Linked DNA regions of Homo sapiens: all the other regions are linked to region 2. The links come from fine-mapping of genetic effects on gene expression. A gene starts in region 2. Each other region holds a variant in brackets. All regions are shown on one strand. Distances are between the middles of the regions. Region 1 has its middle 32 kb from the start of SMURF2. Region 2 holds the start of SMURF2 (SMAD specific E3 ubiquitin protein ligase 2). Region 3 overlaps SMURF2 (SMAD specific E3 ubiquitin protein ligase 2).

What was found. PIP is the estimated chance that this variant, and not a neighbour inherited with it, causes the effect. A credible set is the group of variants that fine-mapping cannot tell apart.
Region 1: its variant is the best candidate, but not a certain one, in a credible set for the expression of SMURF2 in whole blood (TOPMed, PIP 0.56).
Region 3: its variant is the best candidate, but not a certain one, in a credible set for the expression of SMURF2 in whole blood (TOPMed, PIP 0.82).

Annotation. Positions count from the first base shown.
Region 1 is chr17:64,690,481-64,698,664 of GRCh38, reverse strand. No RefSeq gene overlaps it. Among named protein-coding and RNA genes, the nearest start is that of SMURF2, 32 kb to the right of the region's middle. The variant G/C (reference allele first, on the strand shown) is at 4,070.
Region 2 is chr17:64,658,574-64,666,757 of GRCh38, reverse strand. It overlaps SMURF2 (SMAD specific E3 ubiquitin protein ligase 2), which reads left to right and starts at 4,451. Exons shown (of 19, transcript NM_022739.4): 1 at 4,451-4,929. The coding sequence starts at 4,878. RefSeq lists an enhancer at 3,599-4,157 and silencers at 4,308-4,707, 4,758-4,957.
Region 3 is chr17:64,632,672-64,640,855 of GRCh38, reverse strand. All of the region lies in intron 1 of SMURF2 (SMAD specific E3 ubiquitin protein ligase 2), which reads left to right. Among named protein-coding and RNA genes, the nearest start is that of SMURF2, 26 kb to the left of the region's middle. The variant C/T (reference allele first, on the strand shown) is at 4,525.

The DNA.
Region 1 (8,184 bases), 32 kb before region 2:
GATAAATGTAGTGGAGAAAGGGAGTGAAATAGGGTGCCTACGCCTAGGACGTTTCGTTCATTTTTTAAAAGAAGCTATCATTGAATGTTGCCAGTGGGATTTAATGTATGATAAGGGTGGTATAAATCAATGGGACTGATAGGTAATTTAAAAAACAGTGTGGAGACAACTGAGTGGCCATCTGGGGGGAATATTGGATACGTATCTTTCACTGGGACGAATTCCAAATGTACCCAATATTTAGATGTGAAAAAAAAAGAAAAACTATGAAATACTTGAAAAATCCATTGGAGAGTTTTTTTTATTATTTCATAAATGAAAATTTTGTCCAACTATAAAACTAAGTTCAGAATCCATAAAATAAAAAATGGATATAAAAATCTATTTTCTTCATGGCAGTAACCATTATAAGTTAAGTCAAAAGACAAGCTGGGAACAGTATTTCTTTTTTTTTTTTTTTTAAGATGGAGTTTCGCTCTTGTTGCCTAGGCTGGAGTGCAATGGCGCATTCTCGACTCACTGCAACTCCCCACCTCCCGGGTTCAAGTGATTCTCCTGCCTCAGTCTCCTGAATAGCTAGGATTACAGGTGCATGCCACCACGCCCAGCTAATTTTTTTAGTTTTAGTAGAGACAGGGTTTCACCATGTTGGCCAGGCTGGTCTCGAACTCCTAACCTCAAGTGATCCACCCGCCTTGGCCTCCCAAAGTGCTGGGATTACAGGCATGAGCCACCGCACCCGTCCTGGGAACAGTATTTTCAATTCTGAATACAGAAAGGACTAGTTTCCCTAATATATAAAGAATTCTTACAAATTGATATGGAAACAAGCCAATAATTTAATGGAAAAATGGGCAAATACTAGGTATAGACAATTCACAGAAAAATAAACAAACTAAGCTATGATACAATGTTTACTCTTTCGTAGTAAGAGAAATTCACATTAAAATGACTGAAAAGTACCAGTCTTTAGATCTCAGACTGGCAAATTTCAAAAAGGTGGCCAGGTGCAGTGGCTCACACCTGTAATCCCAGCACTTTGGGAGGCCAAGGTGGGTGGATACTTGAGCTCAGGAGTTCAAGACCAGCCTGGGAAACAAGTAAGACCTTCATCTGTACAAAAAAAAAAAAAAAATTAGTGGGGCATGGTAGCATGCCTGCAGTTCCAACCACTTGGGAGGCTGAGGTGGGAGGATTGCTTGAGCCCAGGAGTTTGAGGCTGCAGTGAGGTATGATCACAACACTGCACTCTAGCCTGGGCAACAGAGTGAGACCCTGTCTCAAAACAAACAAACAAAAAACATCAAAAAGGCAGTTTACCTTGGTGGTTATGAGGCTGAACTCTGGCCTAGAGAACGTGAGTCTGAATCCCAGCTCCACCTGCTATGAGTTAGGTGAGTTACTAAATCTCTATGGAGACCAAATTAACTGGTGTTATCTACCCAAATTCAAAGTATACTACAGATGCATTTAATTCATTTTGTCATGTTCAGTGATGCCTATTAAGGATATCTGTCGCATTGTTGATTGGTTAGCAAAAGACTGGAAACAACCTACTAAGGGATTGTTTAAGTAAGTTATGATGCATCCAAACAATTTGCAGAAGCTGACTGTGCACAGAAATGGAATAAGAAAGCAACATGCAACGTTTTACAAATTCAAAATAGAGACTGCCAATGGTGGTACTGATCTTCAAGAAGATCCCCTTGAGTGGTTCTTTGTGGTTAGGTAGACGCAAGGCAAGGGTTACCCTATGTTCTGGGGAAGGGTGAGGCTACACCACCCATTATCCTTGGAGCATACCACACAAAAGTTGTTGGGGAGAGGGTGGGAAAATCTGCCCTTATGAGGCTTAATGGTATTAGAGTCTCTCTGGTAGACTGAGCTGATCCTCACTGAGGTCATCTGAAGGACATAGGGGCCTGGAGGAGAGACTCACCAGGGTGCACCTGGGAGGGACTGAGGCTGCAACTCCTGGGACCTGCCATTGTGTGGAAATGAGCAGGAGTGCCATCCTGTGCCCAAGTCACTAACAGTCTCTTCCCAACTGTGACACTGTGGGAGACCAACCCAGCAACCATCCCCTAGTTGGGCCCCTTTGGAGATGGACCAGTTTTCTCTTTGCAGAAGCCTCTTGGGATAAAAGGAAAATGTCCCGTGAGTCATATTTCAGTTATTAAGAAGGTGGGCCCTTATTTTTGTACCTTTTACTGGAGAAGAAGGAAAAAACAGTGATGCTTAAATAATATCATGCTTAGAAACTTCCTACCTAGTACCTTCTACGTGTATGTTATTTATTTGAGTCAGATTCTGAGAAATGGGATAATGGAACTTAAAAATATAGACATTTTAGGCTGGGTGTGGTGGCTCATGCCTGTAATCCCAGCACTTTGGAAGGCTGAGGTGGGCGGAACACGAGGTCAAGAGATGGAGACCATCCTGGCCAACATGGTGAAAAATTAGCTGGGTGTGGTGGCACGTGCCTGTAGTCCCAGCTACTTGGGAGGCTGAGGCAGGAGAATTGCTTGAACTCAGGAGGTGGAGGTTGCAGTGAGCCAAGATGGCACCATTGCACTCCAGCCTAGCGACAGAGCAAGACTCCATCTCAAAAAAAATAAAAATTAAAAATTTTTTTAAAAATAGACATTTTATGTGTGACTTTTTCAAAGAGTTGCATCACATTAATATATTTTCAGAAATGTAAAAGATGAAGAGTTCTTCCGTATGAAAACTTGTACATGAGGCCAGGCGTGGTGACTCACATCTGTAATCCCAGCACTTTGGGAGGCTGAGGCAGGTATATCACTTGAGGTCAGGAATTCAAGACCAGCCTGGCCAACATGGTGAAACCCTGTCTCTACTAAAAATACAAAAACTAGACAGGTGTGGTCGTGGGCCCCTGTAATCCCAGCTACTCGGGAGGCTGAGGTAGGAGAATCACTTGAACCTGGAAGGCAGAGGTTGCAGTGAGCCGAGATGGCATCACTGCACTCCAGCCTGGATGACACAGTAGATCATGTCTCAAAAATTTTTTTTATCTACATAGCAGAATAGGCACAAAAAATGATCTAAAGTATCTTTTTTAAATTTAATTTTTTTTTTTTTTTTGACAAGAGTCTTGCTCTTGTCGACCAGGCTGGAGTGCAATGATGCGACCTCAGCACACTGCAACCTCTGCCTTCCCGGGTTCAAGCAATTCTCCTGCCCCAGCTTCCCTAGTAGCTGGGATTACAGGTACCTGCCACCATGTCCAGCTAATTTTTGTATTTTTAGTAGAGATAGGGTTTCATCATGTTGGCCAGGCTGGTCTCAAACTCCAGACCTCAAGTGATCTGCCTGCCTCAGCCTCCCAAAGTGCTGGGATTACAGGTGTGAGCCACTACGCCTGGCCCTGGGCATCTTTTTAAACTGCAGGCACTGATTCAGTAGGTCTGAGCTGGGGGCTGAGACCTAGTCCTTGTCTAATGGGCTTCCTCTGAAGCCAGGCTGCAATTCTGCACCACACTTTGAGGAGCAGGTTCAAGACCAATGTATCTTCTGCCATTTCAAACTACTCAAAAATCTGTTCTCCTATCTCAAGGTCTGTCTCAGTATAATTCCAATTACAGCCCCACCACACTGGTCCTGGCTACTTCCTGTAGAACCACATGGAACAAATTTAATTGACCTGAACTTGATAGCTTATCAGGTATGTTAAGGCAGCTAGCTGTTAGTGTCCCCTGAGTTTTCTTTTCTTTTTCTTTTTTCTTTTTCTTTTTTTTTTTTTTGAGACAGCATCTTGCTCTGTCACCCAGGCGGGAGTGCAATGGCGCAATCTTGGCTCCCAGGTTCAAGCGATTCTTGTGCCTCAGCCTCCCTAGTAGCTGGGATTACAGGCGTGCACCTCCATGATCCTGGCTAATTTTTGTATTTTTTAGTAGAGATGGGGTTTCGCCATGTTGGCCAGGGTGGTCTCAAACTCCCAGCCTCAAGCAATCTGCCCACCAAAGCCTCCCAAAGTGCTGGGATTACAGGCGTGAGCCACCGCGCCCCGCCCCCTGAGTTTTCTTTCTCAGCTTCTCCAAACATT[G/C]CTTGCGGTACATGACTCGAAGTCCCTAAGCACTTTAATTCCTCTCCTCCTTGTCCCATTTACAGTAAAGCACCCAGAACTGAAAGTATTGCTTATGGCGTAGGCTGCTGGGCTGCTGGCAGCAGGTCACCATCATGTCCTTGATCCTCAGTGCAATTCTTTGGCCAAGAGCCCATGTCCCTAGAATGACTCACACCGAGCCCATTGTCAACTAAAAGCCTGAAGTCATTTCCACAGAGGCTGTTCTTGACTCACACCTCCCTCAACTTCTACTTTAGCAATTGATTCTTTGGATCCAACTAACCCTAGGAACCACTGTTAAGCTCCAGTTTTCTCACTTGAATTTGGCCTGGGGTTGTTCCTGACGACATCAGAGAGAGGTGCTCTGACCACAGGAACGGGGCAGTGTTGAGTTAGGGAACCCCTCTACCATTAGGACCAGTATGAAGGTGTCATTGCTACTTGCAAATCACGTCTTTATCTGCTTCATTTAGGGATCCTGCTATTGACAATTACACATATTTTTTGTTTGTTTGGTTGGTTTTTGTTTTGTTTTTTGAGATGGAGTCTTGCTCTGTCGCCCAGACTGGAGTGCAGTGGTGCGATCTCGGCTCACTGCAACATCCACCTCCCAGGTTCAAGCGATTCTCCTGTCTCAGCCTCCCGAGTAGCTGGGATTACAGGTGCCCGCCACCACACCCGCCACCACACCCGGCTAATTTTTGTATTTTTAGTAGAGACGGGATTTCACCATCTTGGCCAGGCTGGTCTTGAACTCCTGACCTCGTGATCCACCCACCTCAGCCTCCCAAAGTGCTAGGATTACAGGCGTGAGCCACCACACTCAGCCGACAATTAGACATCTTTAAAAGAAAGACTCTATAGCAGTTGATGATAACGCAGAAGTTTTTAGTCTTAGTTTATTGAAGTGACCCTTCTAACTCTGTAATCACTTATCTTCCTCTTCCCATTCATCTAATATGGGGTGATATAATATGTGATATTACCAATGTAATTCTAATATATACTTTTTGTGGAAAATTCAAAAAACATCAAAGCTAAATGTGAAAATTTGCCGGGCAAGGTGGCTCACCCCTGTAATTCCAGCACTTTGGGAGGCCAAGGCAGGCAGATCACTTGAGGCCAGGAGTTCAAGACCAACCTGGCCAACATGGCAAAACCTTTCTCTACTAAAAATACAAAACTTAGCCTGGCATGGTGGTGCACACCTGTAGTCCCAGCTAGAGGAGGCTGAGGCAGGAGAATCACTTGAACCCAGGAGGCAGAGGTTGCAGTGAGCCAAGATTGTGCCATTGCACTCCAGCCTGGTCAACAGAGCGAGACACTGTCTCAAAAAACAAACAAACAAACAAACAAACAAAAAGAAAGTTGAAAATCTCAGATGATGCCATCATCTACTGGTAACCACTGTTGACATTTGGTATATTTATTTTATTTCTTTTCTATTTGCATATTTTTTCTTGCTAAAATTCAGTATCTTACCTGTTTTAACAATAGATGTTCATTATAGAAAAAAGTAGAAAATGCAAATATGCCAAAGAAGAAATAGAAATCCCCATGGTCCCATTATGTAGAAACAACCTCTAGTTACATTTTGATGTGTTTCTTTTAAGATGTTTAAATTGGTTGGGTGCAGTGGCTCATGCCTGTAATCCCAGCACTTTGGGAGGCCGAGGCAGGTGGATCACCTGAGGTCAGGAGACCAGCCTGACAAATATGGTGAAACGCCATCTCTACTAAAAATACAAAAATTAGCTGGGCATGGTGGTGGGTGCTTATAATCCCAGGTACTTGGGAGAAGCTGAGGTAGGAGAATTGCTTGAACCTAGGAGACAGAGGTTGCAGGGAGCCGAGATCACACCACTGTACTCTAGCTTGGGCGACAGAGTGAGACTCTGTCTCCAAAAAAAAGTTGAAATCTGCATATATAATATATTTTTCTGTTAAGAGATGAATTTATACAGTAATACTATATCATAAAAGTTTTTTTCCACTTAACAGCATGTTGGAAGCATGTTTTAGAGAACATTTAGTGAACTGACTCTATGTTTTTACATTGTGAAGATTTACTCTGTAAGACTATTATTTCGCCTCTATTTAGAGAAAGTTGCTTGTTTTGGCAATCTCTCTTTTGTTATGAGCATTCACATGAGCCAAGTTCCACTTTCAGAAATGCTATTGGCCAAGCTTCATGCTGTTCATGAATTCATACATAAAGACTATAAATTTCAGCCAGGGGTAATGGCTCATGCCGATAATAGCTACTCAGGAGGTTGAGGAAGGAGGATCGTTTGAGGCTAGGAATTAGAGACCAGCCTGGGTAACAGCTAGATTCCCTCTGTCTTCTCCTCTAAAAATAAATAAATAAATAAATTAGCATGGTGGCATATGCCTGTAATCCTAGATACTAGGAAGCCTGGGGCAGGGAGTATGGCTTGAACCCAGGAGATCGAGGCTGCAGTGAGCTATGATTATGCAATTGCACCCCAGCCTTGGCAATAGAGCAAGAACCCACTCTCTGTTTTTTAAAAAAGGCTGTAAATTTCTGAATGAGTTCATAAGATGAACTACAACTTACTTGTGCCCACTGCCTTTTCTTAGAAATTAACTCCAAAGGCCAGGCGCAGTGGCTCATGCCTGTAATCCCAGCACTTTGGGAGGCCGAGGCGGGTGGATCACCTGAGGTCAGGAGTTCGAGACCAGCCTGGCCAACATGATAAAACCCCATATCTACTAAAAATACAAAAATTAGCCTGGCATGGTGGTGCATGCCTGTAATTGCAGCTACTCAGGAGGCTGAGGCAGGAGAATTGCTTGAACCCGGGAGGCAGAGGTTTCAGTGAGCCAAAATGGCGATACTTCAGCCCAGGCGACCGAGCAAAACTCTGAATCAAAAAAAAAAAAAAGAAAGAAAGAAAAGAAATTAACTCCAAAATGTAAATGCCTACATACAGTATTTAAACTGTGTTTTATTTTGTTTTGATTTTTTGAGATAGGGTCTTACTCCTGGTGGCGCGATTTCAGCTCACTGCAGGCTTCACTTCCTGAGCTCTAGTGATCTCCCACCTCCACCTCCTGGAGTAGCTGGGACCACAGGTGTGCACCACCACACTCGGCTAATTTTCTATATTTTTCGTAGAGATAGGATTTCACCATGTTGCCTTGGCCTCCCAAAGTGCTGGGATTACAGGCATGAGCCACCACGCCCAGCCTTTAAACTGTTAGTGATAGCAGTGAATGAGTTCAAATGAATTCAGAAAAAAGACATATAGATTAGACCACAGTGTTTTTGTTTTTGTTTTTGTTTTTGTTTTTGTTTTGAGACAGAGTCTCACTCTGTCGCCCAGGCTGGAATGCAGTGACCAAGATCTCAGCTTACTGCAACCTCCACCTCCTGGGTTCAAGCAAGTCTCTGCCTCAGCCTCCTGAGTAGCTGGAATTACGGGTGCCCACCACCACGCCCGGCTAATTTTTGTATTTTTAGTAAAGACAGTGTTTCACCATCTTGGCCAGGCTGGTCTTGAGCTCCTGACCTCGTGATCTGCCCACCTCGGCCTCCCAAAGTGCAGAGATCACAGGAGTGCACCACTGTGCCCGGCCAGCGCCACATTTTCTACTATCCTGGTAAAGTAAATATTTGTGTTAAACCCCACCAAACTTGAAATGAATGGAATGTTCTTAATTTTCAAGGTGCTATCTTTAAAGATCTTCTCCAGAATGACCTGTGATATCTTTATAGGGGCCAGGGGGTTTCCCCTCAATATCAGAATTTCTTTACTTACAAGATGATAATCTTGTAAGTAATTATAGAATCTTGTAAGTAATTATAAGATTATAATCTTGCAAGTAATTATGGAATCTTGTAAGATTATCATCTTGTAAGTAATTATAGAATCTTGTAAGTAATTGTAAGATTATAATCTTATGAGATTATAATCTTGTAAGTAAAGAAATTCTGATATCGAGGGGAAACTCCCTGGCCCCTATAAAGATATCACAGGTCATTCTGGAGAAGACCTTTAAAGATAGCACCTTGAAAATTAAGAACATTCCATTCATTTCAAGTTTGGTGGGGTTTGGTACAAATATTTACT
Region 2 (8,184 bases):
GTTAAATGGCTGCATAAAAAACCATGCGGTTGGCCGGGCGCAGGGGCTCACGCCTGTAATCCTAGCACTTTGGGAGGCCGAGGTGGGCGGATCATGAAATCAAGAGATTGAGACCATCTTGGCCAACATGGTGAAACCCTGTCTCTACTAAAAACACAAAAAATTAGCTGGGCATTGTGGCGCGCGCCTGTAGTCCCAGCTACTCGGAGGCTGAGGTAGGAGAATTGCTTGAACCTGGGAGGCGGAGGTTGCAGTGAGCCGAGATGGCGCCACTGCACTCCAGCCTGGCGACAGAGGGAGACTCCGTCTCAAAAAACAAACAACAACAACAACAACAACAACAAAACCCCAAAAGACCATGCAGTTTACGGATCATTATGCTGTTCCCTCATTTCTTTTTTGTTATTAATGGAATTTAGCAAAGAACATCTTCTGTACTATTACTTATTTTTCAAGAATAGGGCCGGGCGCGGTGGCTCACGCCTGTTATCCTAGCACTTTGGGACACCTAGGCAGGCGGATCACCTGAGGTCAAGAGTTTGAGACCAGCCTGGCCAACATGGTGAAACCCCACCTCTACTAAAAATACAAACATTAGCTGGGGGTGGTGGCAGGTGCCTATAATCCCAGCTACTCCGGAGGCTGAGGCAGGAGAATCACGTGAACTTGGAAGGCAGAGGTTGCAATGAGCCAAGGTCGCACCACTGCACTCCAGCCTGGGTGACAGAGTGAGACTCCAACTCAAAAAATAAAATAAAATAAAATAAAATAAAATAAAATAAAAATGGTGGCTGAATGAATCTCATAGTAATATTTTGATATGTAAAGAATGGTCCTGCTGGGCACAGTGGCTCACGCCTGTAATCCCAGCACTTTGGGAGGCCGAGGAGGGTGGATCACAAGGTCAGGAGTTCGAGACCAGCCTGACCAGCATGGGGAAACCCCCGTCTCTACTAAAAAAAAAAAAAAAAATACAAAAATTAGCCAGGTGTGGTGGTGGGTGCCTGTAATCCCAGCTACTCAGGAGGCTGCGGCAGGAGAATCACTTGAACCCAGGAGGTGGAGGTTGCAGTGAGCCGAGATTGCACCACTGCACTCCAGCCTGGGCAACAGAGTGAGACTCCGTCTAAAAAAAAAAAAAGAATGGTTCTGTTTTCATGTCCAATGCTATTTTCCTTTCCTCAAAGACTTTTACACCTGAATGTATATAATTGATTTTACCTAAGATTCCCATCCCTTAATTTTCCGTCTTATCTTTCCCAAGTTCCGGCTATTAATTTGGTAATTCCCTACATGTTGTCATTATAATGTATATATATCCCCCTTTGGGGACATAAACATATCCCCAAGGGAAGAGAAACACATAAACTTTTTTGTTTTTTTAAACTTTCTAACCCAATCGTCTCTGAAATCTGAGCCTGGACTAGATGAGGCCACTCACTTAAGAGAGGCCTTCAAAATGACTTTCCTATTATGAGTATTCTGTTTTTGAGTGCATTTGTTTTTTGAGGTAGGGTCTTACTCTGTTGCCCAGGCTGGAGTGCAATGGCATAATCATGGCTCACTGCAGCCTCAACCTCCTGGGCTCCAGTGATCCTCCCACCTTGGTCTCCCGAAGTGTGGGGATTACAGGTGTTAGCCACCACGCTCTGCCCCTGTTCTATGTTTTCATTTATTTTACTTCATTTTAAACATTTAGTTACTTTTAAATAAATGTTTACAGTCAATGTCAATATTTAAGATGGCAAGGAAAACAATAAAATGAACATCCATGTACCTGCTTAAAAAAATCATTACCAGTACATTGATTTTCTTTTTATTTTTGTGATAGTCTCAGTATGCTGCCCAGGATGGAATGCAGTGGCACTGGAATGCAGTGGTGTGATCACGGCTCACTGCAACCTTGACCTCCACAGGCTCAGGTGATCCTATCTCAGCCTCCTGAGTAGCTGGGCCTATAGGTGCAGGCCACCACTCCTGGCTAATGTTTTGTAGATACGGGGTTTTGCCATGTTGCCCAGGCTGGTTTCAAACTCCTGGGCTCAAGTGACTCCTCTGCCTCGGCCTCCCAAAGTGCTAGGATTACAGGCATGAGTCACCATGCCCAGCCCTTGAATGGTTTTAGTGTTATTCTTATCTGAATATTTGTTTTAAACAACAGGATTTAACCTTACAAGAAAGCCTAAATACAAACCTCTGCACGTTAACCCTATATACATTTTTCTATGCTGTCACTTACATTTTTTAATTTACTGCTTTCAACTTCAAAACAAGCAGTCTCCCCCAGGTCTCCCATGACGTTCTGAAATCCTAACTTCTATTACCTAATACAAGGCTACAAATTATGTTAGTTGGGTGGTTGGGAACAAAGCGTGCTGTAAAAATAAGGCAAATGTGTATGTGTACATTAGTTTGCTAAGTTTTTTGCCACTGTCTGCCCTCTTAAATTGTGGTAGCAGCTATTGTTCACATTGATTTCTATATATTTGTAGTACAAGGAAGCATTTCTAAAGGACCTTGTTCATTGCTTTGCACAAAATGGCCACTTAATATTTGTTGAATGAATTGCTGGCACTATCTCTGGTATTTTAATTTTTATTTATTTATGTATTTATTTTTGATATGGAGTCTCGCTCTGTCACCCAGGCTGAAGTGCAGTGGCGTGATCTCGGCTCACTGCAACCTCCCGTGTTCAAGCGATTCTCTTGCCTCAGCCTCCCTAATTGCTGGGACCACAGGCATGCGCCACCAGGCCCGGCTAATTTTTTTGTATTTTTTTTTAGTACAGACGGGGTTTCACCATGTTGGCCAGGCTGGTCTCAAACTCCTGACCTCAAATGATCCGCCCACCTCGGCCTCCCAAAGTGTTGGAATTACAGGCGTGAGCCACTGTGCCCGGCCTATCTGTGGTATTTTTAGTGTGATGTCTAGAACTTCATATACTTTTTTGGATTACTTTTAATTGTAGGGCTGTATCCAAACTGATGAAATGTTCTCGCAGGTAACTATCTGGAGAAGTGAGTTCACTGATGTATTAAAAGAAATGACTGGCATGGAATAAGGATTAAAATATATTAATCCAAAACATTTAAAATTGCATTAATGTTATAATAGCCTAAAGCAAAACTAACGAATCACATAAAAAATCCCCCACGCTATTGTCCTTAGTAGTTTACATTGTGCTAGATACTTTCGCATGTATATGCATACAACTTCTATTCTGTTTTTAAACTTTGCATTACATATACATTCTTCCATATTATATGATCTTCATAAAAATAGTTACATGGCTGCATAAAAAACCATGCGGTTCCTGGACTATTATGCTATTCCCTCATTCCCCTTTTGTTATTAATGGAATATAGCAAAGAACATCTTCTGTACGATTATTTGTCAAGAATAGGGCCGGTGCGGTGGCTCAGGTCTGTAATCCCAGCACTTTGGGAGGCCGAGGCGGGCTGATCGCTTGAGGTCAGGAGTTCGTGACCAGCCTGGGCAACATGGGAAAACCTAAACGTCTCTACTAAACATGTCTCTACTAAAAATACAAAAATTAGTGGGGCGTAGTGGTGCACACTGTGGTCTCAGCTACTCCAGAGGCTCAGGTGGGAGGATCACCTGAGCCCCGGAAGTTGAGACTGCAGTGAGCCGTGTTCGCACCACTGCACTCCAGCCTGGGCGACAGAGGGAGACCCTGTCTAAAAACAAAAAAATAAAAAATAAATTTCTAGCAGTACAGTTACAATGTCAAAGGATAAGGTACACATTTTTTAAAAACTTTTCTCTTTCTCCTCCTGAGATAACGAAATACAGTAGCGTATGAACAACTCTTCATACATTACTCTCCAAGGTTTATCTTGTTAATCCTTTAAGACGTATCATCTCCCCATCCTTGGCTGCACCTGAAAAGAGCGGGAGTCGGCAGGTAACCTGATCTCCTCCACCAGGTGAGTCCCGGATGGAGGTGTCAACTACAAGACCAGGAGCAGAGCATTCCTGGGGTTTTGCTGGAACCATCGGCGTGGGAATGCTTTCTCTTCCCTCGCCCGAAAGACGCCAAGTTCCCGGCAGGCAGCGGACTCGGTTCTAACCTTCCTCGCCCCAGCCTCTCGGAGCGCCCTGCACGCAGTGGGCGTCTAATAAAATGCAGTTGGCCCTGCTTGGACAAAAGTTCTCCCTTAAGTGGCCCGGACAGTAAACCCCTCCAGGTGCCACAGAGCTGCCGCGCCCGCCGCCGCTTTGCTCCCTGCCTGCTCCCTCCCAGCGTTCCGCGTGGGACCCTCGGCGGCAGCTCACACCCTCCCTGACTGCCGGTGCCCGCCAGGGCACCCTGCGCGCGCCCGCCGGCCCCGCCCCGGCCCCGCCCCGCCCCGCCGGCCCCGCCTCCCGTCTCCTCCCCGCCCCCCGGAGCCGACGAGTGGCGGCGGCGGCCCCAGGTCCCGGGTCCCTCAGACAAGAGGGCGGGTGGAGGAGGAAGCGGCCGAGCCCAGAGTTCTGCTCCGGCGCCCCCGAGCACCGCCCGCTTCAGCCGACCAGCCCCGTCGGCTACTGGGCCTCGCCGAGACGAGAGGAGGGAAAGGCCTCGGCGGCCGCGAGGAGGCGGCGGGGGCGCGGGCGGAGGCGGCGCGGGCGGCCGCGGCTGCCGCTTTGTTGTGCGGCCCGGGCCGAGGAAGGAGAAGTGGGAGGAGGGGGGAGCTCGGCGTCCCGCTCCCTCCGCGGCTCATGGCGACGACTCTCGGCACATCCGGGACCCTCCGGCCGTGGCGGCCGAGGCGCCGGCTGCTCGGGCCCCAGCCCCGGCCGCTGTGGTGACTCCGCCGCGCCTCGCCGTCGCCCCCGTGCCGCCCGCCGCCCCCGCCGCCCCCGCCGCCGGGGACATGTCTAACCCCGGAGGCCGGAGGAACGGGCCCGTCAAGCTGCGCCTGACAGGTGAGGGGGGGCGGCGGGCCGGGCTGGGCAGCCGCGGGGTGGGCGAGCTGGCGGGGGGTGCCTGTGGCCTTGGGAAGGGCCAGGGTCGCGATCAATGATGAGTTGGGGGTCGGAGGAATGGGAAGGCCTAGTTCAGGGAGAGTAATTGGAAAACCACTTGCTCTGGTTTGGACATTGTTTAAAAAGCCGAGGATGACTCGGGGCGGGGGGTGGTGTTTTGTGGAGGGGAGAATACACCGGTTCGCATCGCAGGCGGATTTCAGGTCGGAAAGTCTTGGTCAAGGAGCCAGACGCTGCCTCCCGGGGCTCGGGGAACAGCCCCTGGGCTACCGCCCAGGTGAGATCGTGAAGGGGATGAAGAGCTCCCGTGGCGAGGATTATTGAATCCGGTTGCTGACTGCGCGCAGTAAACACTCCTTAAAGATGGAGCGCTTAACGGGAGGGTGTGCGTGTGTGTTCCCGGGTTGTTACCTTGCACACACCCAGTTATGCCCGCATGAAAAACCTTTACTCCCCGCCGCCGGCCACCGCTGCCCGGGCCACACACCTTAAACTCATGTCTCTGAGGTGAGGAGACAGGTTGACTTTTCCGGTGTGCCTGTCTGATCCGACGGCTTGGGCTCATTGTACACTGTGTTTTGGAAGTGTCTGATTGTAGGGTGGCATGTTTGGGGTTGTTCCTTTTAGGCCGCAGAACTTGTGTCTAACTTCTAACGCCAGACCTGCTTTAAAAACACACTTTTTTGGGGGGGGTGCATTGCTAAGTATGTGCTCATACAAACTTTCGAGCAAACTTTCTGTTACTCTCCCCACCCTCCCCATTCCTTTTTCGAAATGGAAAAGAATGTCCGGAGGGGTTGCCAGATAGAAGACTACACTTACAAAGTGTTTATGATTCCAGGTGCATGAAATCTTTAACATTACAGGTACGTTTTGCTTACAGTGCCATTTTTGGTATTCTTACATGGACATGCCACCCCCGTTTTAGGAGAACTTTTATTTGGTTTGTAAAGGAATTGGAATCACGGCGTTATCCTACCTTCACCATTTACCCCTGATAAATTGTCCACGTTTGTATTCGGGTGAGTGGTGAGAAAGATAATTTTCCGTAGAGGATTTGTGTGTGCGTGCACGTGTACGGATAAACTGTAATTATGTTTGCCCACACTAGACTTTGAGATTTATTTGGACTAATTTTGTAGTTAAATGCCTGTGTGTCACATCCCAGTCCACTGGCTGAACTTGCTGGATGAAAACTTGCAGTGAATTTGGTATTTGAGAATTTAGCTTGAATGTATGTTGGCTGCAATTTAAATAATATATTACTTTCATGGCAGTTTTCCTTTCCCTAGGGAAAATTGCAGGGAATCATTAACTGAGTGATTCTTAATGGAAAACCTGGATTGGAGGATACTTGTATTCCACCCCCTCCCCCCTCATTCAGTGTCCTTACATTGGGAGGAGTCAGTGGAAACCTTTATAGGGGATCTTTGTTGCTTTAGAGTTTATCTGTTGCTGTTGCTGTCTGTAGTCAGTGATCGTGGAAAGAACATGTGATCCCAGGTGTGCAGAAAGCATCAGAAATAGGCTGTTTCCATTTACCCTCCTCTGGGCTATGTAGAGAAAATGAGGGAAAAAATTGGGTTTTTGATTTTCTGCAGATAAGGTTAGTTGAGGTTTTTAGTATGACTTAATAGATCTTAAAGTGTTTATCTGTGGTTTCCGTACTGCCTATGATACATTATAAGAATTTATAATTAAAGTTTATTAAGAGGAAAGATTATGCTTATATTTTAGGGGAAGGGGGAATATTGAACTACATTTATAGTGATTTTGTTTCAGGTTTTTCTGAGGAATTTTAAATACCCTGTGTCCTCTTAATAGTAAAAACAGTTTGAGGTACTCTGAGTTTCTTACAACTATTTGTCTCTGAATAGTTTTCTCTTAAAATTTGACAAATATTAAAAACATTGTCCTTCCTTCTTTGGTTACAGTGGAGTCTCTTCTGTTTTGCCAGGAAAGTTAACATATTTTTTCTTCCATTTTTGTTCATCATTTATAAATTAGATGGTATAGATTTTAGCAAATAGATCTCAAGAGCTGGATTCAATTAGCAGCTTTTTAGGACATAAACATTAAAGGGTTAGATGGAAAAGATTGTTTTGACTGACTGGATAAATGACAGGGCTGTGTTTGATGTGCGTCCAGGAATTGGTCTGGAGCTGGTGCCCAACTTCTCAGTCCATCTTGAGAAGCCAAATAAAATATTTAACCTAGGCCTCATTTTGTTTAAAAAAAAAAAAAAAAAAAAAGTTGATTCTTTGTGAAGACCTTAAGAAATGTTTGGCATACCTTTAGACTAAGTGTTTAACAGTTCATTTAGATCTGGGTTGCCTAATAGAGGAAAAAAAATCACTTAAAAAAAGACAGATCCCACAGTGAATTTATATTTGGTTTACAATACACTTGGGCTATAAGGTGTTTTAAAATTATTGTTCTTTGCTTTAAGTTAATACCATATTAGTATTTTAAATTTATAGAGTACCTTTGATTTCAAGATGCTGTATAAACTTTAGTTACTTGATAATAACTTTATTGTGGAATTGCCCCTTTGCTGAAAGGTATAAACATTTCTTACATGGTGATGCACACACTCACACACACACACTCACACACTCATACACACTCTCTCTGAAGAAGAGGAAATATTTAAGCCATGAGATCTCTGCCCACAATTGATATTAAACCTTTCCACATATTATTCTTAAAACCACAATCAGTGAACTGTTTGGTATTTGTCAATGCTAAGAAGGTGGGGCTAATTTAATAATTTGATCCCAAATTTTAGATTCCTCAGGCAGTTGGGGGTTAGAATCTGATTTCATCCATCAAGCTACTTCTGTTCTTTATGACACATTAACATATGATCATTGAAATGGGCTGTATGGTAACACTATCAACTTCAACTACTGTTTCTATAACATTGATTACAAAATGTATAATGTCTATATCATTATACTTATATCTGATACAGGCTTTTCTTTCAATGGTTTGGATAGAAAAATATTCTTTACAGTAAAAACTTTGGGATAATTTTTTATACCATTATTGTTTCTGAAAACCAAAGGCTGGAAAAAGCAGTTTAGTGTAATTTCTAATATTTTAAATTCTTAGGTATGGAGAAGCAGAATAAGATTACTCCTCCAGAACATTTGTTTCAGACCTTTTTATACATTTAATGTTTTTGTATGCTGC
Region 3 (8,184 bases), 26 kb after region 2:
TCTCCGACTCCCTGGTTCAGATGATTCTCCTGCCTCAGCCTTCTGAGTAGCTGGGATCACAGGCACCCGCCACCATGCCCAGCTAATTTTTGTATTTTTAGTACAGACGGGGTTTCACCATGTTGGCCAGGATGGTCTTGGTCTCCTGACCTCGTGATCTGCCTGCCTTGGCCTCCCAAAGTGCTGGGATTATAGGTGTGAGCCACTGTGCCCGGCCTCATTGTTTTTCTTTAACCCGTCTATAATCCATTCTCCACAGTATAGCTTCATGAATTAAAAAAGAAAAAAGTAAATTGGATGATTTTACTTCCTTGCTTTAACCCTCCAGTGTCTTTCCATTATACTTTGAATGAAATAGACACTATTTATCCAAGACCTTATATAATCTGCCCCTGTTGACTGGGCTTTCCTTTGCTCATTATGCTTTAGTCACGTGGATTTTCTTTTAATTTCTTGAAAAGGCCAATCTCTTCCACCTCAGAGTCTTTGTATATATTCTTTCTTTTGAAGGAATTTTCTTTCTCTTGTTTCTTCTTATTTTTCTGTGTCAGTTGTATTATCTCAAAGAGTTCCTAAGTAGTCTGTCTAAAGTAGTCTCTACTCTCATTATGCTACCTCCATAATATCCTGTTAACTTCTGAGAACTGAACACAATTTCTTTTAATATTCATTTATTTACCTGTTTACTGTCTTTTTAAAAATAAACTTTTGATTTTAGAATACTTTTAGATGTATAGAAAAACCTGTAAGTCTAAAGATAAGAAAAATCTGTAAATCTAAAGATCTGTAAATCTGAAGATAGTATAGAATTCCTGTATTTCCATAACCAGTTTTCCCTATTAACTAAACTAATCTTACATTAGTATGGTATATTTGTTATAATTAATGAACCAATATTGGTACACTTTTATTAACTAAAATCCATATTTATTCCGATTAGTTTTTACCTAATGCTGCTCATTGTTTTTTAATCCCTATTAGATGGGGAGCACCCACAGGGCAGGGATTGTGTGTGTGTTTCATTTACCTAATGTGATGCCAAACAGTAACGGGTACTTGGGAAGTATTTCTTGAGTGACTACTGGAAAGAAGTCTTAGAGTTTATAGTCTGACTTAAACTTCCCCATTTTAGGTGAGAAAATTGCTTAGGGAGGCATATGTGTCTTCTCCAAGTCCCATGGGTAATTCATGGTATAGCTGGTATTAGACACCACATCTTATGATATCCAGTTGCTATTATCTCTTTGAAACTAATGAACCTTAATTTTCTTTTTTTTTTGAGTCAGAGTCTCGCTCTGTCGCCCAGACTGGAGTGCAGTGGTGCGATCTCAATTTACTGCAACCTCCGCCTCCCGGGTTCAAGTGATTCTCCTGCCTCAGCCTCCCAAGTAGCTGGGATTACAGATGTGCACCACCAGGCTTGGCTAATTTTTGTATTTTTAGTAGAGACAGGGTTTTCCCATGTTGGTCAGGCCGGTCTGGAACTCCTGACCTCAAGTGATCCACTCACCTCAGCCTCCCAAAGTGCTGGGATTACAGGTGTGACTCACCACGCCCAGCCTGAAGCTTAATTTTCAAGACCCAATCTGAGGGTCTGGGAGGGACCCTAGCAATGTGTTCACTTGGTTAATTTTTAAAAAGTTTTATTGGTATATAATATATGAATGAGAAAATTCATAAATATTATAAGTGTGTAGTTTAAGATTTTTCACAAACTGAACACACATATATAACTAGCATCCAGATCAAGAAACAGAACATTGCCAGTATGTGGTCACATATCTTTGAAGAATTTGCAAATGTAAGTTATCTAAACCACAGTCAGCTAAAATTGCCGTCTTTTTACCTGACTTCCCCTTTGTTACACTCTTCCTTATGTTGGGTGGCATTGGAATGGCTGTGGGCACTTTTGGGGTCTGGCTATGGGGAAATTGACTTGGAGAGATATTTAGTTGGATTTTAGCAGGATATGTTTACATGGTTCATAGCCTCTTTGTGTATAGTCAAGGTATTACTAGCCATCCCAGTATGGGAATGGTTTCTAGGAATACTCTATGTCTGTTGTGCTAACTCATGGGGCATTGTGACATAAACGTGCATAGCTAGAGGTTGTCTAGCAATATGAATGTGTCCTATGGCATCTGGCACCCAAAGTGTGTGGTTAGTAGAGGAAAAACAAGGTTTGATGTCAAAAGCCAGTCTGGGGAAAATTCTTTAAGATTTTGTAGCTTTAATGAAAGAGACTTGTTAAGAATTTTCCCAGGTTTGACCATAGTCCTAAAAGTTGATATAACATTATTTATTGATGATGTTCCTGTGCTAAAAGAAAACTTTTCTAAGCCATCAATAACAACAGGCTGAGCGTGGTGGCTTACGCCTGTAATCCCAGCACTTTGGGAGGCTGAGGCAGGCAGATCACTTGAGGTCAGGAGTTTGAGACCAGCCTGCCCAACATGACGAAACACTGTCTCTAATAAAAATACAAAAATTGGTCAGGCGCAGTGGCTCATGCCTGTAATCCCAGCACTTTGAGAAACTGAGGTGAGTGGATCACTTGAGGTCAGGAGTTCAAGACCAGCCTGGCCACCATGGTGAAACCCCATCTCTATTAGAAATACAAAAATTAGTCGGGCTTGGTGGCACATGCCTGTAATCCTAGCTACTTGGGAGGCTGAGGTAGGAGAATCACTTGAACCCAGGAGGTGGAGGTTGCAGTGAGCCGCCAAGATCGTGCCACTGCACTCCAGCCTGGGCAACAGAGTGAGACTCTGTCAAAAAAAAAAAAAAAAAAAAGAAAAAGGAAAAAAAAAAAACTCATGGGAAAGTGTGGTACTGGTGTAAGGATTGAGATATAGATCAATGGAATAGAATAGAAAGTCCAGAAAGAAAATTATACATTTGTGGTCAGTTGATTTTTTTTTTTTTTTTTTTTGACTAGGGCGCCAAAACCATTCAATGGGGAAAGATTAGTCTTTTTAAAAAATGGCATTGGGACCGGGTTCTGTGGCTCACACCTGTAATCCCAGCACTTTGGAAGGCCAAGGTGGGTGGATCATTTGAAGTCAGTAGTTTGAGACCAGCACGGTCCACATGGTGAAACCCTGTCTCTACTAAAAATACAAAAATTAGCCAGGCATGGTGGCACACGACTGTAGTCTCAGCTACTGGGGAGGCAGAGGTGGGAGAATCGCCTGAACCTGGGAGGCAGCAGTTACAGTGAGCCAAGATCGCACTATTACACTCCAGCCTGGGCAACAGAATGAGACTCCGTCTCAAGAAAATAATAATAATAATAATGTGTTGGACCAACTGGATTTCCACATGCAAAAGAATGAAGTTGAACCTCTACCTCATGCCATATATAAAAATTAACTCAAAGTGGATTAAAGACTAAATGTAACAATGCAAGCCATAAGACTCTTAGATGGATGGCTGGGTGTGGTGGCTCACACCTGTAATCCTGGCACTTTGGGAGGTCGAGACGAGTGGTTGTTTGAGGCCAGGAGTTCGGGACCAGTCTGGCCAACATGATGAAACCCCGTCTCTACTAAAAATACAAAAATTAGCCAGGAATGGTGGCAGGCACCTGTAATCTCACTTACTTGGGAGGCTGAGGCAAGAGAATCGCTTGAACCTGGGAGGCGGAGATTGTAGTGAGCCGAGACCGTGCCACTGCACTCCAGCCTGGGTGACAGAGCAAGACTGTGTCTCAAAAAAAAAAAAAAATCTCTTAGATAGAAACACAAGACTTTGGATTGGATTCTGTCAATTTAAACAAAAATCTTATTTATTTATTTTTGTAAAGATGAGGTCTCACTCTGTTGCCCAGACTGGTCTCGAACTCCTGGGCTCAAGAGATCCTCTTGTCTCGGCCTGCCAAAGTGACAGGATTACAGGTATTAGCCACTGCACCCAGCCTAGACTCTATCAAAATTAAAAACGTTTGTGTCCAAAAGGACACTAATAAGAAAGCTAAAAGATAACTCATAGAATGAGAGAAAATATTTATAAATTATACCTGATAAGGGTCTAGTATACAGAATATATAAAGAACTCTTTTTTTTTTTTTCTTTTTTTGAGGCGGAGTCTTGCTCTGTCGCCTAGGCAGGAGTGCAGCAGCATGATCTTAGCTCACTGCAACCTCCACCTCCTGGGTTCAAGTGATTCTTCTGCCTCAGCCTCCTGAGTAGCTGGGACTACAGGTGCACACCACCATGCCCAGCTAATTTTTTTTTTTTTTTTTTTTTTTTTTTGAGGCAGAGTCTGGCCCTGATGTCCAGGCTGAGTGCAGTGGCATGCAATCTCGTCTCACTCAACCTCCACCTCCTGGGTTCAAGCGATTCTCCTGCCTCAGCCTCCCGCGTAGCCGGGATTACAGGTGTGTGCCACCACGTCCAGCTAATGTTTATATTTTTAGTAGAGATGGAGTTTTGCCATGTTGGCCAGGCTGGTCTTGAACTCCTGATCTCAGGTGATCCACCAACCTCAGCCTCCCAAAGTGCTGGGATTACAGGTGTGAGCCAC[C/T]GCACCCGGCCTTAAGGAACTCTTAAAACTCAACAATAAAAGGACAAACAATCCAGTTAAAAAATGGGCAGCTAGCCAGATGTGTTGGCACATGCCTATAGTCTCAGCTACTTGAGAGGCTGAGGTGGGAGGATCCCCTGAGAACAGCCTGGGCAGCATAGTGAGACCACATTTCAAAAAAAAGGGCAAAGGGTTTGAATAGACAGTTCTCCAGAGAAGATATATCAGTGGCCAAAAAGCACATGAAAAGATGCCCAATATCATGAATCATTAGGGAAATGAAAATGAAAACCACAATGGGATACTACTTCACGACCACTAGAAGGGCTATAATAATGGGAAAATAACAAATGTTAGCAAAGATGTGGAGAAATTGGAACCCTCATACATTGTTGGTGGGAATGTAAAGTAGTTCAACCACTCTGCTAAACAGTTTGTGGCAGTTTTTCAGAAAAATTAAACATAGTTACTACATGACTCAGCAATTCCATTCCTAGGTACATACATAAGAGAACTGAAAACATATGTTCACACAAAATCTTGTGCATAGTAGCATTATTCATAACAGCCAAAATAGTTGGGTGGAAACAACTCAGATGTCTGTCAACTGAATGGATAAACAAAATATGGCATATCTATACAATGGAATATTATTCAGCCATAAAAGGGAATAAAGTGCTGATGATGTATGCTATAGTATGGATGAGCTCAAAAAATTAGGTTGATTGAAAGAAGCCAGACACAAAAAGCCATATTGTTTAATTCCACTTGGCAAATCCATAGACAGAAGGTAGATTTTCAGGTTGCTAGGGGATGGGGGAGGGAAGATGGGGAGTGACTGCTAACAGGTAGTATGGGGGTTGTTTTGGGGTGATGGAAATGTTCTGGAATTAGATATTGGTGATGGTTGTACAGCACTGTGACTATGCTAAAAATTATTGAATTATACAGTTTAACTTGGTGATTTTCATGTTATGTGACTTTTATTATTTATTTATTTATTTTGAGACCTAGTCTCGCTCTGTCGCCCAGGCCAGAGTGCAGTGGTGTGATCTCGGCTCACCGCAACCTCCACCTCCCTGGTTCAAGCAATTCTCGTGCCTCAGCCTCCCAAGTACCTGGGATTACAGCTGTGCACCACCACGCCCAGCTAATTTTTGTATTTTTAATAGAGATGGAATTTCACCATGTTGGCCAGGCTGGTCATGAACTTCTGGCCTCAAGCGATCCACTCACCCTGGCCTCCCAAAGTGCTGAGATTACAGGTGTGAGCCACCATGCCTGGCCTTATGTGACTTTTATCTGGAAACAAATGGGAAAAAAACTTGTCATAACAAATATTATTATTATTATTATTAGGTTATGATGTTTGTGGCTTTTGCCAGTTTGTTAAAATTTATGATTTATTTTCTCATTCTAAATTGAATATTGGCTGTCAATACCCAATTCTGTGCTCTTAAAATGGAGCCTCCAAACTCTGTAAACTCCAGGCTTCATGAAATCTGAATGCACCCAGGATATGTATTAGCATCAGATAAAAATCATTCAAGGACTGTGTCTTCTTTTTAAGCTTGAATTGAACAAATATGTTTATTTCTGCTCTGTCCCCAAGCCCCATTCACAGTGAGTAAGAGAATGAAAACAGCATAAATCTGCAAGAGCAGAAAGAACAGGAGACAGTAAATAAGTGGTATAAAAAAACTTCAGGGAAATGGAAGGTGGTTGGAGTAGATTAATTAGCTGAGAAAGTGGAATATAAAATATCTACAGAGGCGGATACCAATTCCTTGCATGATTCTAGCCAGTTCATATCACCTATCTCTAGGAAGACTCAGGAATTGAAGGTGCCAGGTATCTCTGAGGGTGCAAGCAAGATGTGAAGCTGAAAGCAGGAAATGGTTTAAAGTCAGTGGAAAGTTCTATACATGCCTCATCCTAGGCAAGCAGATGAGTGTTCTTACCCAACCTCACAAAAAAGTCAAAGATTTATCTTGTGGAGAAAGCCAGACTGCCTATAGACCCAGGAATACCTGGTGCTGTGGAAGGTGGTAAAGAAATGCCCAGCTGAAAATGAGGGGATTTGCCACATCTTTAAATGGTGAAACTCCCAGCCCCCTTGTATTACTTAGCTCCAAGAATGCTAGCAGCCAGTTATTCTCTTTTTGTTTTTGTTTTTTGTTTTGAAACAGTCTCACTGTCGCCCAGGCTGGAGTGCAGTGGTGGGATCTCGGCTCACTGCAACCTCCAGCTTCTGGGTTCAAGCTATTTTTGTGCCTCAGCCTCCCAAGTAGCTGGGATTACAGGCGCGCACCACCACACCTGGCTAATTTTTGTATTTTAGTAGAGACAGTTTCGCCATGTTGGCCATGCTGGTCTCAAGCTCCTGACCTCAGGTGATCTGCCCACCTCGGCCTCCTAAAGTGTTGGGATGACAGGCATGAGCCACCACACTCAGCCTATATAAATTTTATGTTTTTACAGTAACTTTGTATGGAGAGTATAAAACTCTTCACAACATTTTTTTGGGGGGTGGGGGGCTAATCTCTTGGTAGTTGCCTGTGTTTATAAGTTACCTCTAAAGTTTAGAATTGAAAGTTGTTTGGTGTTTTCAGCATATTATTGAAGGCTCAGAATTGTAGGGACCAGAATTATTACTGATTCTCTAATGCCTCTAATCAACTGAAGTTGTAAGATAATTCATGTTATGTGAAAAACAAACCAATGATGCTAGTTGAATCCTGGAATTTAAACTTGCAACAAAGTGAATATGACATATTTAATGGTTATTCTTACTATATTGTATTGTAAATATATGGTAAAGGGATTTATGTATTTATTTTTACCCAGCTAATAAACATTTTCACCTGGGATGGAATGATACCGGTGTGGGTATGGAGGGTTTAAGTGGAAAGGGAGTGTTCTTTCTCTGTTTTTATACTCTGCTTTCTCTTTGAAGTTGTTCTTTCCTCTATTTGATTTTGAGGGACCCTGATTGACTCCCAGTACCTGGATATAGAAGAATCTATAGGTAGAGATCTGTTTTTTTGTTTTGTTTTGTTTTTGAAACAGGGTCTTGCTTTGTCACCCAGGATGGAGTACAGTGATATGATCATGGCTCACTGCAGCCTCGGCCTCCTGGGCTCAAGCCATCCTCCCACTTCAGCCTCCCAAGTAGCTGGGACTATAGGTGCGTGCCACCACGCCTGGCTAATTTTTGTGTTTTTATAGAGACAGGGTCTCCTCAGGTTGCCCAGGCTGGCCTCGAACTTCTGGGCTCAAGCTATCTCCCTGCCTTGGCCTCCCAAAGTGCTGAGATTACAGACTTGAGCCACCACATGCAGCCTCTACCTTCTGTTATAACAATAAATACTGTGTATCCCTATTTGCAAAGTTTTAAGAAACTCTTTACCTAAGTCATCTCACTTAATCCTCAAAATAATACTCTGAAGTAGGCGAGTACAAATACTATCATATTGTCATCAGAAAACACTGATCTCAGAGAGGTTAAGTCATTTGTCCAAGGGCTCACAGCCCTTCTCTTAAGCGTGGGAAGCTGGAATTTGAAACCAGATGTGTTTTATTCCTGTCTCTAAGCTCTGTGTTACACTGTCTTCCTAAATTGTTTAGGTCTCTTGACAGAAGTCTGGAGGCCTTTGAACA